Linked DNA regions of Homo sapiens. The protein of the gene in region 2 interacts with the protein of the main gene of each other region in a pairwise test. Each region holds a gene or a part of one and is shown on either strand. Other genes may lie near its edges.

Evidence for each region. The genes of interacting proteins can lie anywhere in the genome.
Region 1: the proteins of RSRC1 (region 2) and SRRM4 interact in binary tests that used the Homo sapiens proteins (3 or more experiments, as listed by UniProt).

The regions. Positions count from the first base shown.
Region 1 is NC_000012.12:118,984,529-118,991,556, reverse strand, and holds part of SRRM4 (serine/arginine repetitive matrix protein 4), read right to left. Parts: intron 1-7,028. UniProt on the Homo sapiens protein: Splicing factor specifically required for neural cell differentiation.
Region 2 is NC_000003.12:158,120,069-158,127,096, reverse strand, and holds part of RSRC1 (serine/Arginine-related protein 53), read right to left. Parts: intron 4,995-7,028; 5' UTR 4,993-4,994; coding exon 4,799-4,992; intron 3,232-4,798; coding exon 3,106-3,231; intron 1-3,105. UniProt on the Homo sapiens protein: Has a role in alternative splicing and transcription regulation. Involved in both constitutive and alternative pre-mRNA splicing. May have a role in the recognition of the 3' splice site during the second step of splicing.

The DNA.
Region 1 (7,028 bases), on a different chromosome or scaffold from region 2:
AGGAGCTCATAGTCACAGTCCCTCTCCTCATGAGGCCTCAACCGTTAGGAGAGGTATGCTTTAGCCAATGATCGCCCAAATCCATATATAATTACAAATGTGTTGAAAACAGTGATAAGAAAGTAATGTCTGTAATGAGGGGTATGACTTAGTCTGCAGCATTCTGGAAGGATCCCCGAGGAAACAGCATTTCCTCTGAGCTCTGGAAAGTGGAGTAGGTATAAATCAGGCACCAGGGGAGAGGAAGAGCTTTCCTAGCAGCATGTGCAAAGGCTCCATGGCAGGAAGGAGCCTGGAAAATGTGAGTAACTAAAAGGAATAAGATGCAACTAAACAGAGGAAGTGAGAGGTGGTGTTTTAGAAATGGTCTCAGGGAGGTGGGCAGGAAGTGGACCATGAAGAGGCTAGAGGCCATGGCAGGGAGCTGGCTCTGTATACTTAAAAAAACATGGGTCCAGGCATGGTGGCTCACACCTGTAATCCCAGTACTTTGGAAGGCCGAGGAGGGTGGATCACCTGAGGTCAGGAGTTCAAGACCAGCCTGGCCAAAATGGTGAAACCCTGTCTCTACTAAAAAAATACAAAAATTAGCTGGGTGCGGGGTGGGTACTTGGGAGGCTTAGGCAGGAGAATTCCTTGAGCCTGGGAGGCAGAGGTTGCAGTGAGCTGAGTTCGCACCACTGCACTCCAGCCTGGGTGACAGAGCGAGACTCCATCTCAAAACAAAAACAAACCAAAAAAACACAAACAAGAGAAAGTGATAGAGGGCTTTAGATGGAGGGAGAGAGGGCTTACATGGTCTGATGTGCTTTTCAAAGAGGTTCTTCTGGGTCTATGTGGATAATGGATAAGAGGGGCAAGGAAAGAGGAAAGCAGTATTGCTGCAAGTGGTATGAGATGGGATTATAACAATGGCAGTTACTAAACTGATTGAACATAAAACAAGATGAGCAAAACAAAACAAAAACACCCCCAACCTTAAAACCCAAACCAGAATGACAGGAAGTCCAGCCAGGAGAGAAGAATATACTAGCAATCAGACAGACCTGAATTCATCTCCTGCTTTCATCACTTACACACCGTGTGATCATGGGCACACTGAATTAAGATGACATAGAGACAAAGCCGAACCAAATAGGACAATGCCGAACCCTGAAACAGTCATTAAGCAATTCACATCTACGTGTGTCTGTTCAAAACAAATAGTAAGAACCTCCGGACGCAAAGGTTTCTCATCTAGAGACTCCCCTGGTTGCTGGATTCCCAGGGCTTACCTCCCCTCTGTGATACCATTTTTTCCTCCTCTGCAAAGTGTCTTATCCTATAAACATGTTGGTTAAGAGCTCTGGGTTCTCATTCCAATTCTGACTCTTACCAGCCATGTGTCTGTGAGCAGATCATTTCTATTCTCAGAGCCTCTGTTTTCTCATCTGTAAAATAGGGTCTTGAAGACACCTCTCTTCTGGAATTATTATAAGTACAGAACTGGATAAGAGATGAAATGTGTTCAGCACAGGGCAAGGCACATAGTAACACAAGGCTCTTAGCACACACATTCCCACCACAAGTGAGCGTGCACACACACCATGAAGATGCACGCTTCAGGCCCAAATGGCACCTCTCTTTCTGCAGAAGTGGCAACTGTCTTCTAAATTCCTGCTCAGTTGCCTAAGCTTAACTTTTAACGAAGCCAGAGAACAGTGATCTGTTGGTATTTGTACTCAGCAAAGCTGTCCGACAGCGGCATCTAAGCTTTGGGAATCCAGCAACCAGAGGATTCTCCGGATGAGAAAGATTTGCGTCCAGAGGATCTTAATATTTGTTTTGAACAGACACACGTAGACATGAATTACTTAATGACTGTTTTAGGGTTCGGCATTGTTCCTGTATTTGGTTTGGCTTTGTCTCTATGACATCTTAATTCAGTGTTCTATTTCACAGAGCTCCGCACAGAGGCTGTAGCATATGGGAGCTCCCTCAGCAAAATTTCAAATGGAGTGGGGGGCTGGAAGGTGTGGGGGGACAGGTGCCGGGAGAGATACACAGAGGGAGAGAGACAGAAAGAGCAGACTGTAGCTTCAAGAGTGTGCAGTGGAGGGGGCTACTGGGTGCAAGGGATAGTCTAGGTTTGCATGCATGAATATGAGAGACCAAACCCTTGCACCGTGGGAACAAAATCTATCACTGCTATTTGGAAGTCTAAACAGCATCTTTAAAGTTTCCTGATGTGATTGTTCACAATCAAAGGGACTGTAAATTTCATGCTTGTCCATAACACATGGAGGGACCCAGCCAATCTTCTGATATTGCTGTTCAAAGTCATCACTGGCTGCATCAGAGTCAGGAAAGAGGAGTCAAACAGAAGCAGATCAGATCTGGAACTCTGCTTGAGAAGGCAAGAACCCTCCTGGGACCACCTCCTGCCCCCAGCCCAGGACCTAGGAATTTCCTGAACTGGCTTACAAGGCCCCACTTGATCTGTTTTCTGCCTGCATCCTGGGAATCATCTTCTGTCACTCTCCCATTCACTCACTCTGCTCTAGCCACACTGACCTCCTTGCTATTTCTCAAATACACCAAGCATCCTTCTACCTCAGGGCCTTTGCACTTGCTGTTCCCTCTGCCTCAAACACTTTTCTCTCACTTATCCTCACAGCTCACCTCTCCCTTCACTCAGGGATCATGCTGTCCAACAAAGCAGCTCATTCCCTCACCCTCTATTCCTTTCCTTGGCTTTATTGTTCTTTACAGAATGCATTACCACCAGCTCTCATTTATTTATTTGGTTCTTCATTTATTGTCTTTCTCCTCCACGGGAACAGGGAGTTCCTGTGTTCATTCACTGTTACGTTGAGTAGTGGTTCAATAAAAATGTTGAATGACTGAATAAATGAATGAAAGTACAACCTAATTTTTTTTTAGCCAACGTGCAGCTTCTTCCACTTTGTGTATTAATTCCCCTGTGATTAATTTTATCTTCCACATTTGCAGGCTCGCTATAATCCCCCCATCACTGGTGGTTGTTCATGGAATGCAGACTAGATTTCCTATTAGCTAGAGCTGGTCCATGAAGGACAAGAAGCCTAATAGCCCACGCCAGAGACTGCATCCTTGAGCTGGAAAATGTATATTATATGAGCAGCTCCCTTCCACGGCTCCCCTCCACTAGCGTTGACTATTCCCCCACAGTTAATGTTCCCCTCAGAGAGTTTAGCCTGCTTTCTCTCCTATTAAAAGAAATGGTATTTGAGACCCTGCTGGGGGCAAAGGTCTGATTTTCTCTGATCATTCCTTGTATTTGTAGATAACGTTGATGAAATAGAAGAATCATCCCCATTTTGCAGATCGGATAACTAAAAATAACTGTGTGACTATAAGCAAGGGACTCCATGCTTCATTAAGGGTCTCTCCCTTCGCTGTTTTTTTTTTACATTCCTCTGTCTCTATTTCTCCCTACATTATCATGCTTAAGACAATAATATGTTTTACAGTTTCAAATAGCTAGAAGAAAAATACTGAATGTTTCTAATAAAAGAAATTATAAATGTTTAAGATGATGGATATGTTAATTACACTGATCTGATCACTGTACATTATATGTATCACAACACCACTATGTATCCCCCAAATATGTACAGTTATTATGTGAAAACAAATTTTAAAAATTAAAAAGACTGTCTCCCTTATGAAATATGTACTTATGTTGTGTCTACCTTTTCTACTAAACTCTGAGGCCCTCACTAGAGGACATTCAACTTTTTTCTCCCCAATGGGCCTGGCAAATAGTAACGAAAAAACCTATCATTTATTATTAATAGCAAGAGCCAACACTGATGGAGCTCTGACTGGGTGCCAAGTAGCACTTTCCATAAATTAGCTCATCCAGTCCTCACAGCAGCTCTTGGAGGGAGCTGCTATTATTAGCCCCATTTTATGGATGAGAAAACTGAGATTGAGAAGGTCAAGCTGCTTGCCAAGTCTCATAGCCCGTAAGCATTTGCAACCAATAAAATAAAACACTTCCTTTGATTAGTGTGCCCCTGAGGTCCATCAAATGTTTCAAACAGCTCTACCAATCTCCAGTGGCTCTTTAGGGAGCACCAAAGCCACATTTAAAAGTGAATACAGAGCATTGGAGCTGCTCAGGAGTCCAGTCCACAGAACCCAAGCATCACTACTGAACAAGCGCAGCCCAGGTAGTAAGGGGCTTTAGCATCCCCCCTCTCTGCATCTCGTTGGGTAGCCCCTGGCATAGTACACAAGAGCATCTGCTTTATGGAGATCTGGGTTTGTACCAGGCACAGTGCCATGCTCTTTATATAAATTATCTCATTCACTCCTCACTACAACCCCAACAGAGGAGTATTTCACAGATGGGGAGGCTGAGGCACAAAGAGGTGAAGTGACTAGCGGGTCCTGCAGCTTGCACGTAGCAAAGAAAGATTTGAGCCTGGATAGATTTGACTTCAGAGCTCAAACTCTTCATCATTCTACTTCCTCCACCTCAGAAATATTCTCTCACACTTCAGCGAAAGTCTTAGGAACAAGCAATTAAAGAGCTCTAGTTTTGCTAAGCCCCTGTGAATTCTTCCACTTCACGGGAAGGTAAATCCAGCCACTCTGAAAAATAAAAAATAAAAAAAACAGATTTTTTTTTTAATGTATTGCTCTTCTGCAGCATGCCTGAAGAGTTCATGGAGAAGAAGGCATGTGACCCAGGCTTCCTTCCCTATTAAAGGAGTTAGGGTTTTAGGGATGTTCCCTTTTTTTGGTGGCCTGGAGCAGTGGTGGAGGTAATGGAGACTTACAGGCCTAGAAAGCACATCCAAGTGGCATTTAGTCCAACCTCCTGCCCCCATACTGGCTAACATGTCTACTTGCCCAGACAGACAGATGTCTCTATCTAGGGAACTTCATTCTGACACCAGGGAGAGTCAAGTCTATTTGCAGTGTGTGCGTCTTTCAAGTTGCATTGATCAGAAGCCTCAGCGTCTCAGAACTGGAGGTGGGGTGGGGAGAGAGCTAATCTGTTGCTGGGTTTGAACCATGCACATTCATCTAATTAATGCATCCAACATTCACTGAACATCTACCACAACCTCGTTCTCTAAGATAGCACGTGTGCCGGGTGAACACAGCAGAATGTCAGAAATGACCCCCTGCAACCAACCCCTGTATCCCATTCAACAAATTTCACCTTTCAAAAGGAGAAAGGTTTGACCCACACAATAACGCTCCCTTCCTAGAGAAAAACGCTCATTCACCGCCAGGGCAAGCATTTTCTGTGACCCTCAGCGCATTGGCTCTTAACCACAGGCTGCTGCCAGAAAATCGCCTCTCAACAGCCCCTCACCTGGCTCCTGATGATCAAGTCAGCACAAACTGCTAACTGATCTCTTGGCACCGAGGGGAGTCTTGAATTAAATGGTTCAAAGGCATTTTTTTTTCTGCCTTACAATTTCCCTTTATGCAGTAAAATCTCCAATAGTTTGGAATTTATGGCCTTTTGGACAGGGCCTGGGCTGAAGTCTACTTCTGGTCTATTCTGCGTAGAAAGGATTTTTGAAGAAAATTAATAGCTTGCTAAAAGAATTGTAAGGAAAATGTGTGTTCTACTTAAGGGGATATCTTTTCTAGCCCTTTACTAACACTCATGCATCCATAAACAATTGATATGCAAATTTCAAATGATTTTTACATGTTCATTAAGCCTTTAGCTGCTACTATTGGTCGATATGGTGATATGAAATCATATTGTGGCTTGATCTAGCCTTAAGCACTAGGTTTTCACCGAGCTGAAACTTCTTAGGTACAAACTTCTCTAGGCTAAGCAATTAAAAAAGAGAATTAAGTTAATGCCAGGCAAAATGACTACCCTTCTTGGATGGGGATAAAAGGGAGGTGGCTCTCTACACTTTAGAGATTCATATATCTTATCGATTCATGCTGGTTCCCTTCCGGCTGGTAGATAAAGTTTGACAAGGACCACTGTACATCCTGGTTTGCCTGGGATGATCTCTGTTAGATCTTCCATCCTAGGTAATTACTAATGACACCTTCTTTCATTTTTAAAGACATTTTGATATAAACTATAAATCACATAGTCACTGTAGATTTGATGAAACCGTGGGATTAAAATTGTGATTTTTCAAGAAGTTTGAGCTTTCTTTAGACTGACAGTACCTGGTCTTCTCTATACAAACCAACAGAATGCTCCATGGAAATGTTATACCAATCAATTCTGAATCCAGATAATTATTTATTATCCCCAACCCCCTAACTGAAACAGTCAGATCAGAAAGCAGTTAGCCTCTTCTCAGAGACGAGGATTATGGGACCACTCTCTACCCTGCCTCATGTGTGTTAACTTCATCTGAATGTAGTTGTCCATCAGGAGTTGAAATCCCAATAAAAATGGTCAGCATTACTTGGGGGAGAAATGGGTAGGCATGGAGAACACAATGATGAGGAGTTGTTGCTTTCCTTTTGGCCACTATAAGCTTTGTTCCAGAGTCAATGTCTACTAAACAACACCATGCACCACACATAGGGGTAGAGCTTTACCTAACTAAATCCTTACAACCTGTTGTCTGAGGGGTTACTGTTATTATTTCTATTTTCAAGCTCAGTGTGGTAAAACTATTTGTTCAGGATACACAGCTAGTAAATGATAGAACCAGGACAGGAATCCAGGTTGTCTCATGCTCAAGTCTGAGCTCTTAACCACTATGATATACTGCTTCCCACTCTGCTCTACTGTTCTGACATTTGAGGCAGACATCTGGTTGCAATTTGATACATTATAAAGCTATTGCCTCATCAAGTATGCCCCACAGAGGGGTAGAGGAGAAAGAGAGACTAAGCAGGGGGTTGCTTAGATTGCAGTTGCATGATGTATGCATATTGCTATGAAATCAATGAATTGAATATATGTTTCTATCCTGGTACTAAATTACCTTGAGAGATAGACTTAAAATATCCTGAGGAAGTTTATTCAGAGGGGTGGCCTTCATCTATAAACAAATATT
Region 2 (7,028 bases):
AGACACATTATAATCTAATTAACAAAAGTTAAAGGCAAAGAGAGAATCTTGAAAGCAGCAAGAGAAAAGTAAATCGTCATACACAAGGGAGCTTTCATAAGATTTCAGCAATTTTGCAGAGGAAACATTACAAGCCAGAAAGGAATCAGGTGATATATTCAAAGTGCTGAAAGCAAAAAACAAAAACAAAAACAAAAACAAAAACAAAAACAAAAACAAAAAAAACCCTGTCAATCAAGAACACTATATCAAGCAAAATTGTTCTACAAGAACAAAAGACAAATCAAATCTTTCCCAGATAAACAAAAGCTAAGGGAGTTCTTCACTACCAGACCTGCCTTACAAGAAATACTAAGAGGAGTCCTGCAAGTGGAAATGAAATGACACTAGACAGCAACACAAAAGTACATGAAAACATAAAGCTCACTGGTAAAGGTAAATATATACACAAGTACAGAGTACACTAACACTGTAATGGTGGTATGTAAAACATTTTTAATTCAGATATAGAATTGAAAAGATGACAGTATAAAAAATAACTAACTATAAGCTATATTAATGGATACAATAAGATGTAAACTGTGATATCAATAACATAAAATAGAAGTGGAGAAACATACAAGAGCAGTATTTTTGTATAAAGTCAAAGGTTATTACCAACTTAAAAGACAATGTTTTGTGTAAGCCTCATGGCAACCACAAAGAAAATACCTATAGAACATATACAAAATAAAATCAGAAAAAAAATCATAGCATGTCAATACAAAAATCAACAAAACAAAAAGGAAGGCAGCAGGAGACATGAGAGACAAAATAGCTATAAGGCAGAAAACAATCAACAAAATGGCAACAGTAAGTCCTTCCCCATCAGTAATTATTGTAAATGTAACTGGATTAAACTCCCCAAACAAAACACACAAAAGTAGCTGAATGAATTTTTCAAAACACACACTCATACACACAAAATACAATTACAGTATATGCTGTTTACAAAAGATGTGCCTTAGATGTAAAGACACACATATACTGAAAAAGATGAAAAAGATAATCCATACAAATGGTACAAAAAAAGAGCAGAAGTGGCCATACTTACACAAGACAAAATAGACTTTAAGTCAAAGACTGTCACAAGAAAAAAAGAAAATTATATAATGATAAATGGGTCATTATTCTGGAATATATAACAATTATATATATATGCACCTAACACCAGAGCACTCAAATATATAAAGTAAACATTGCCAGAATGGAAGGGAGAAGTATTTAGTAACATAGTAATAGTAGGGTATTTCAATAATCCACTTTCAATAATGGACAGAAAAATAAGACATAAGAGGACCTGAACAACACTACAGATGAATTAGACCTAACATAAATACACAGAACACTCCACACAACAGCAGCAAAATATGCATTCTTCTCAAGTGTACATGGAACATTCTCCACGACAGATTTCATGTTAGGCCACAAAACAAGTCTTAACAAATTTAATAAGACCGAAATCATAGCAAGTATCTTTTCGAAACACAAAGAAATGAAACTAGACATCAATAGCAGTAGAAAAATCAGAAAATCCACAAATATGTAGAAATTAAACTACACACTCTTGAACAACCAAATACACCAAAGAAGAAATCATAAGAGAAATTAGAAAATACCTTTAAACAAATGAAAACACAAACACACATAGTAAAACTTAAGAGAAACAGCAAAAGCAATACTGAAAGGAAAGTTTTAGCATGAACACCTACATTTAAGAAAAAAAGAAAAGTCTCATATCATACTTAATACTTCAAGGAACTAAATAAAGAACAAATTAAACCAAAAATTATCCAAAGAAAGAAAATAAAAATGATTAGAGAAAAAAATAAATAAAATAGAGAACAGAAAGACTTTAGAAAAAAATCAACAAAACTAAGAGTTTTTTGAAAAACAACAACAAAATTAACAAGTACTTAGTTAGATTAAGAAAAAATGAGGCCGGGCAAGGTAGATCATACCTATAATGCCAGCACTTTGGAAGGATAAGGTGGGAGGACCAGTTGACACCAGGAGTTGGAGACTAGCCTGGGCAATATGGTAAGACTGATTTCTACAAAACATATTTTAAAAAGTCAGCCAGGCCTGGTGGTGTATGCTTGTATTTCTAGCCACTTAGGAGACTGAGGTGAGAAGATCATTGAGCCCAGGAGTTTGAGGCTGCAGTGAGCTGACTGCACCAATACACCCAAGCCTAGGTGACAGAGCAACACCTCACCTCCAAAAAAAAAAAAAAAGAAAGAAAGAAAAAGAAAAAATACCAGAAGCGTAATAACTAAAATCAGAAATGAAACAGCAGACATTACAGTTGATGCCACAAACATTGAAAGGATTATAAAAGACTACTAAGAATGCTAATAAACTGGATAACCTAGAAAAAGTGGATAAATTCCTAGAAACATACCACCTACCAAGACTGAATCATGAAGGAAGAGAAAATCTTAACAGACGTATAACTAACAAGGAGATTGAATCAGTAAGCAAAAACCTTCTAACAAAGAAAAGCCCAGGAGCAGATAGCTTCACTGCAGAATTCCACCAAACATTTAAAAAGAAATTAATGTCAATCCTTTTCAAAATCTTCCAAAAAAACTGAAAAGGAGGGAGTACTTCCAAACTCATTTTATCAGGCCAGCATTACTCTGATACCAATGCCAGACAAATATATTACAAGAAAACTGCAAGCCATAAGTCCCTGATGAATACTGACGCAAAAATCCTTAACAAAATACTAGTAAACTCATGTCTGGGGAACGCACGTGCTACCACCACCGGGCTGAAAAAAAGAAACCCAATCTAGCCTACTGGACAATGAGAAGCCACGTACACCCCGGCCAATAGCCAGAACCAAATGCAAGATATATGAGTGAGGCCACATTAGACCATCCAGTTCCAATCAAGCTATCAGATGACTAACTGCATGAATGACCCCAGGTGAGAAAAAAATAAGTGCCAGCTAAGCTCAATCAAAATTATATAATTATAAGAAAATAAATGATTGTTGCTTTACATCGCTGAATTTGGGAATAATTTGTTACAAAGCAATAAATACTTAATAAGGCATACCTTCTTGTTCTGCTTTTTGACCTAGACCTCTGAACTCTATAGGATTTCCCTCGACCCCTTGAACGACTTCGACTTCGTTTCCTTCTGGAGCCATAAGAAGAGCTACTGCTTGATCGATGCCTGCGTCTGAAATAAAATATAATCAAAGATCACTGCTATAAAAATTTTTATTATGAGCATTAAGGAAAAACCTTCTAGATTCTAAAGAATCATCTGATTTTTACTGTCTCACTGTTTCCTGGAAGCAAACAGAGATAAATTAAAATGTTATTTCTCTTGAACAGTCATATGACTGGTTCATAACTTAGTGATTGGATCAGTACTAATTAAGGTATTAAGGGTCTTAGAATCTTTCCAAATATCATCAGATTATATGGTATGAAAACTAAACCAAGGCCAGGCTCAGTAGCTCATGCCTGTAATCCCAACATGTTGGGAGGCCGAGGCAGGAGGATCGCTTGAGGCCAAGAATTCGATACCAGCTTGGGCAACACAGCAAGGCCAAGTCTCCACAAAAAATAAAAATAAAAAAACTTAGCTAGGCATGGTGGCACATGCCTCTAGTACTAGCTATTCAGGAAGCTGAGGTGGGAGGATCCCTTGAGTCCAAAAGATATGACTGCACCGCTGCACTCCCGCCTGAGTGACAGAGCAAGATCTTGTCTCTAAAAAAATTTAAAATTAAGGCCAGGCACGGTGGCTCACGCCTGTAATCCCAACATTTTGGGAGGCTGAGGAGGGCAGATCACCTGAGGTCAGGAGTTCAAGACCAGCCTGACCAACATGGTGAAACCCTGTCTCTACTAAAAATACAAAACTAGCTGGGCATAGTGGTGCATGCCTGGAATCCCGGCTACTTGGAAGGCTGAGAAGAACTGCTTGAACCTGGGAGGCAGAGGCTGCAGTGAGCTGAGATCACGCCATTGTACTCCAGCCTGGACAACAAGAGCAAAACTCCGTTGCAGCACTGTTCACAATAGCAAAGGCTTGGAACCAACTCAAATGTCCATCAATGACAGACTGGATTAAGAAAATGTGGCACATATACACCATGGAATACTACGCAGCCATAAAAAAGGATGAGTTCACATCCTTTGTAGGCACATAGATGAAGCTGGAAACCATCATTCTCAGCAAACTATCGCAAGGACAAAAAACCAAACACCGCATGTTCTCATTCATAGGTGGGAATTGAACAATGAGAACTCTTGGACACAGGAAGGGGAACATCACACACTGGGGCCTGTCATGGGGTGGGGGGCTAGGGGAGGGATAGCATTAGGAGATACACCTAATGTAAATGACGAGTTAACAGATGCAGCACACCAACATGGCACATGTATACATATGTAACAAACCTGCATGTTGTGTACTAGAACTTAAAGTATAATAAAATAAAAAATAATTCATTAGAAAAATAAATAAATAAATGCACTAGAAAAAAAATTAAATTAAATTAAAAAAGGAAACTACACCACTTTCTATCTATTTGCCTACTAAGAACAGACAAAGGTTGAGGACACTAGACCCACGGACTGGACCTGGTGGAACAAAAAAACTCTGGGTTGGGACTTTCATAAATATATAGCTAGTAAAAGAAAAATGTTTTATCTAGCAAAATTAAAAATACAAAAACATGAATTTTAAAGAATGTTATCCTCATTACTATATAAATAAAAATTACAAAAATCACCTTCTATCATAAGAATGTGAACGAGGCTGAAGATCTCTGGACCAAGATCTTGACTTTGATCTTGATTTCCTTCCTCCTTTCTTTCGGCTGTATGTTCTACTATCTGAAGAACTGCTCGAGGAGGACCGTCTACGGTGTTTCTTTTTTCTCTTGCTTCTGCTTTCTTCTTCAGTATCTGATGACCGACGTCCCATTTCTATAAGCATAAATTTGAAGAATATTATTTCTAACATGGTGGCACAATGGATGAAATGCAATATATTAATTTTTTATTTCATTTATTTATTTATTTTAGAGATGGGGTCTCCCTCTGTATCCCAGGCTGGAGTGTAGTGGTACAATCATTGCTCACTGCAACCTGGAAGTCCTGGGCTCCAGCGATCCTTCCCCCAAGCCTTCCAAAGTGCTGGGACTACAGGCATGAGCCACCATTTCTGGCCTCAATGTACTACTTTTTATAAAACTTTGTAAAATTTTTAAAAGTCTTATTCAAAGTAAAATTGTTTATGTGCCTGGCTTCTTGACAAGACTGAGAGCAGTTCTTTATATCAATTATCTGATATTTTAAGTTATATTTCTCATTAATTATATGACATTTTCTTTAGTAATCAACCAACTATTCCTTTATTCTCACATTCCCTAATGACAAAATATATTTTACTATCTTAGAGTTGAATTTTTTTTCTAACAGAAAATTCTACATCTTTAAATAGCTAAAACCTCATTAGTCATCAACAAAGTACAAACTGAAACAATGAACTATAATCATCATTTCACTTGTGAAACTCAGGGGAGACAATATTAACTAAAGTACTAAAGTTGATGAGGTTATTGAGAAATCAGTCAGCTCTTCACACACTGCTAGTATCTCTATAAGGTGGTAGAATAATCTTTTTAGAAAGCAATAAAACAATAAATTAAGCAGATATAATAGATATTATATCTATAACAGACATCCACATTTGTATGTGTATATTACACACAAACATATATATTTATATCCACATTAAGAAATATGTACACAATTGAGTAATAATAATCTAAAAATGTTGATGCTTTTTTGACAGAGAAATCCTACTTCTACAAATACATCTGAAAAAATTTTTCTAAAGGATATATTCATGAAAATATTCATCACAGCATTATTATAGTGGTATCCATTGAGATAATTTAAGAAAATATGTACATATGAAAATTAGTATTTAAATGATGCAATATAATTTTCATAATATAAAATATAGTTTTTCAAACTATTTCTATATAGTTATGGTAACACGGACATTTAGTATACAACAGAAAAAACAAATAGAACCTAAGGCTTTCATATTTAGGAATTAACTTTGCTGACAAGAAGCTTAGTTGTCTTACTTTAATTTAGATTCTCATATGCAATACTATTTTTTATTAAAATAGTTATTAGTTATCTTTCAAAGTCATATAAAAACAAGATCCATTCGTTGTAATCACTTAGGATAAATAAAAGCTCACATCATCTTTAATATTTATTCAAAATAAGTTAAATACCGTCACTATAAACAAAGTATTATGTTGGTGCAAAAGTAATTGCAGTTTTTACCATGACTTTTAATGGAATATATTTATATATATATAAAATATATATTATCTATTTAATATATTAAATATATATTATGTATAGTATGTTTAACATTAAATATATTATATATTAAATATTAACTATATAATACTTAATATTAACTGTATATTTAATATATTAATATTAATATATTAATTCTATATTATTTATATATTTAATAATTAATACATTCCATTAAAAGTAATGGCAAAAACCACAATTACTTTTGTGCCAACTTATAATATGTTAAATTACTGCTTTGCTTTCAGAAGCATCAGGTGAGCCAGCCCCTCCCTGATTCCAATACAATACCAGTTGAAAAAATCTCTTAGGACTCAAATCAAAACTTTAAGCTATTTACCTAGAGCCAGAATTAAGGATTTTAAATGTAGCTCTGAACGTCCAAGTTGCTCACATGTCTAAGATTTTAGTTTAACAAAACACTGGGAAGACTTGGTTTTGAAGATTTCAGTAAATCACTTACATATCTAAGCCAGTTTCCTCATTTAAAAAATGAAACTACAATAGGTAAAAGATTACCACGACACTTTCCAGCTTTAAAATGACTATGAAAGTGGCCAGGTGCAGTGGCTCACGCCTGTAATCCCAGCACTTTGGGAGGCCGAGGCGGGCGGA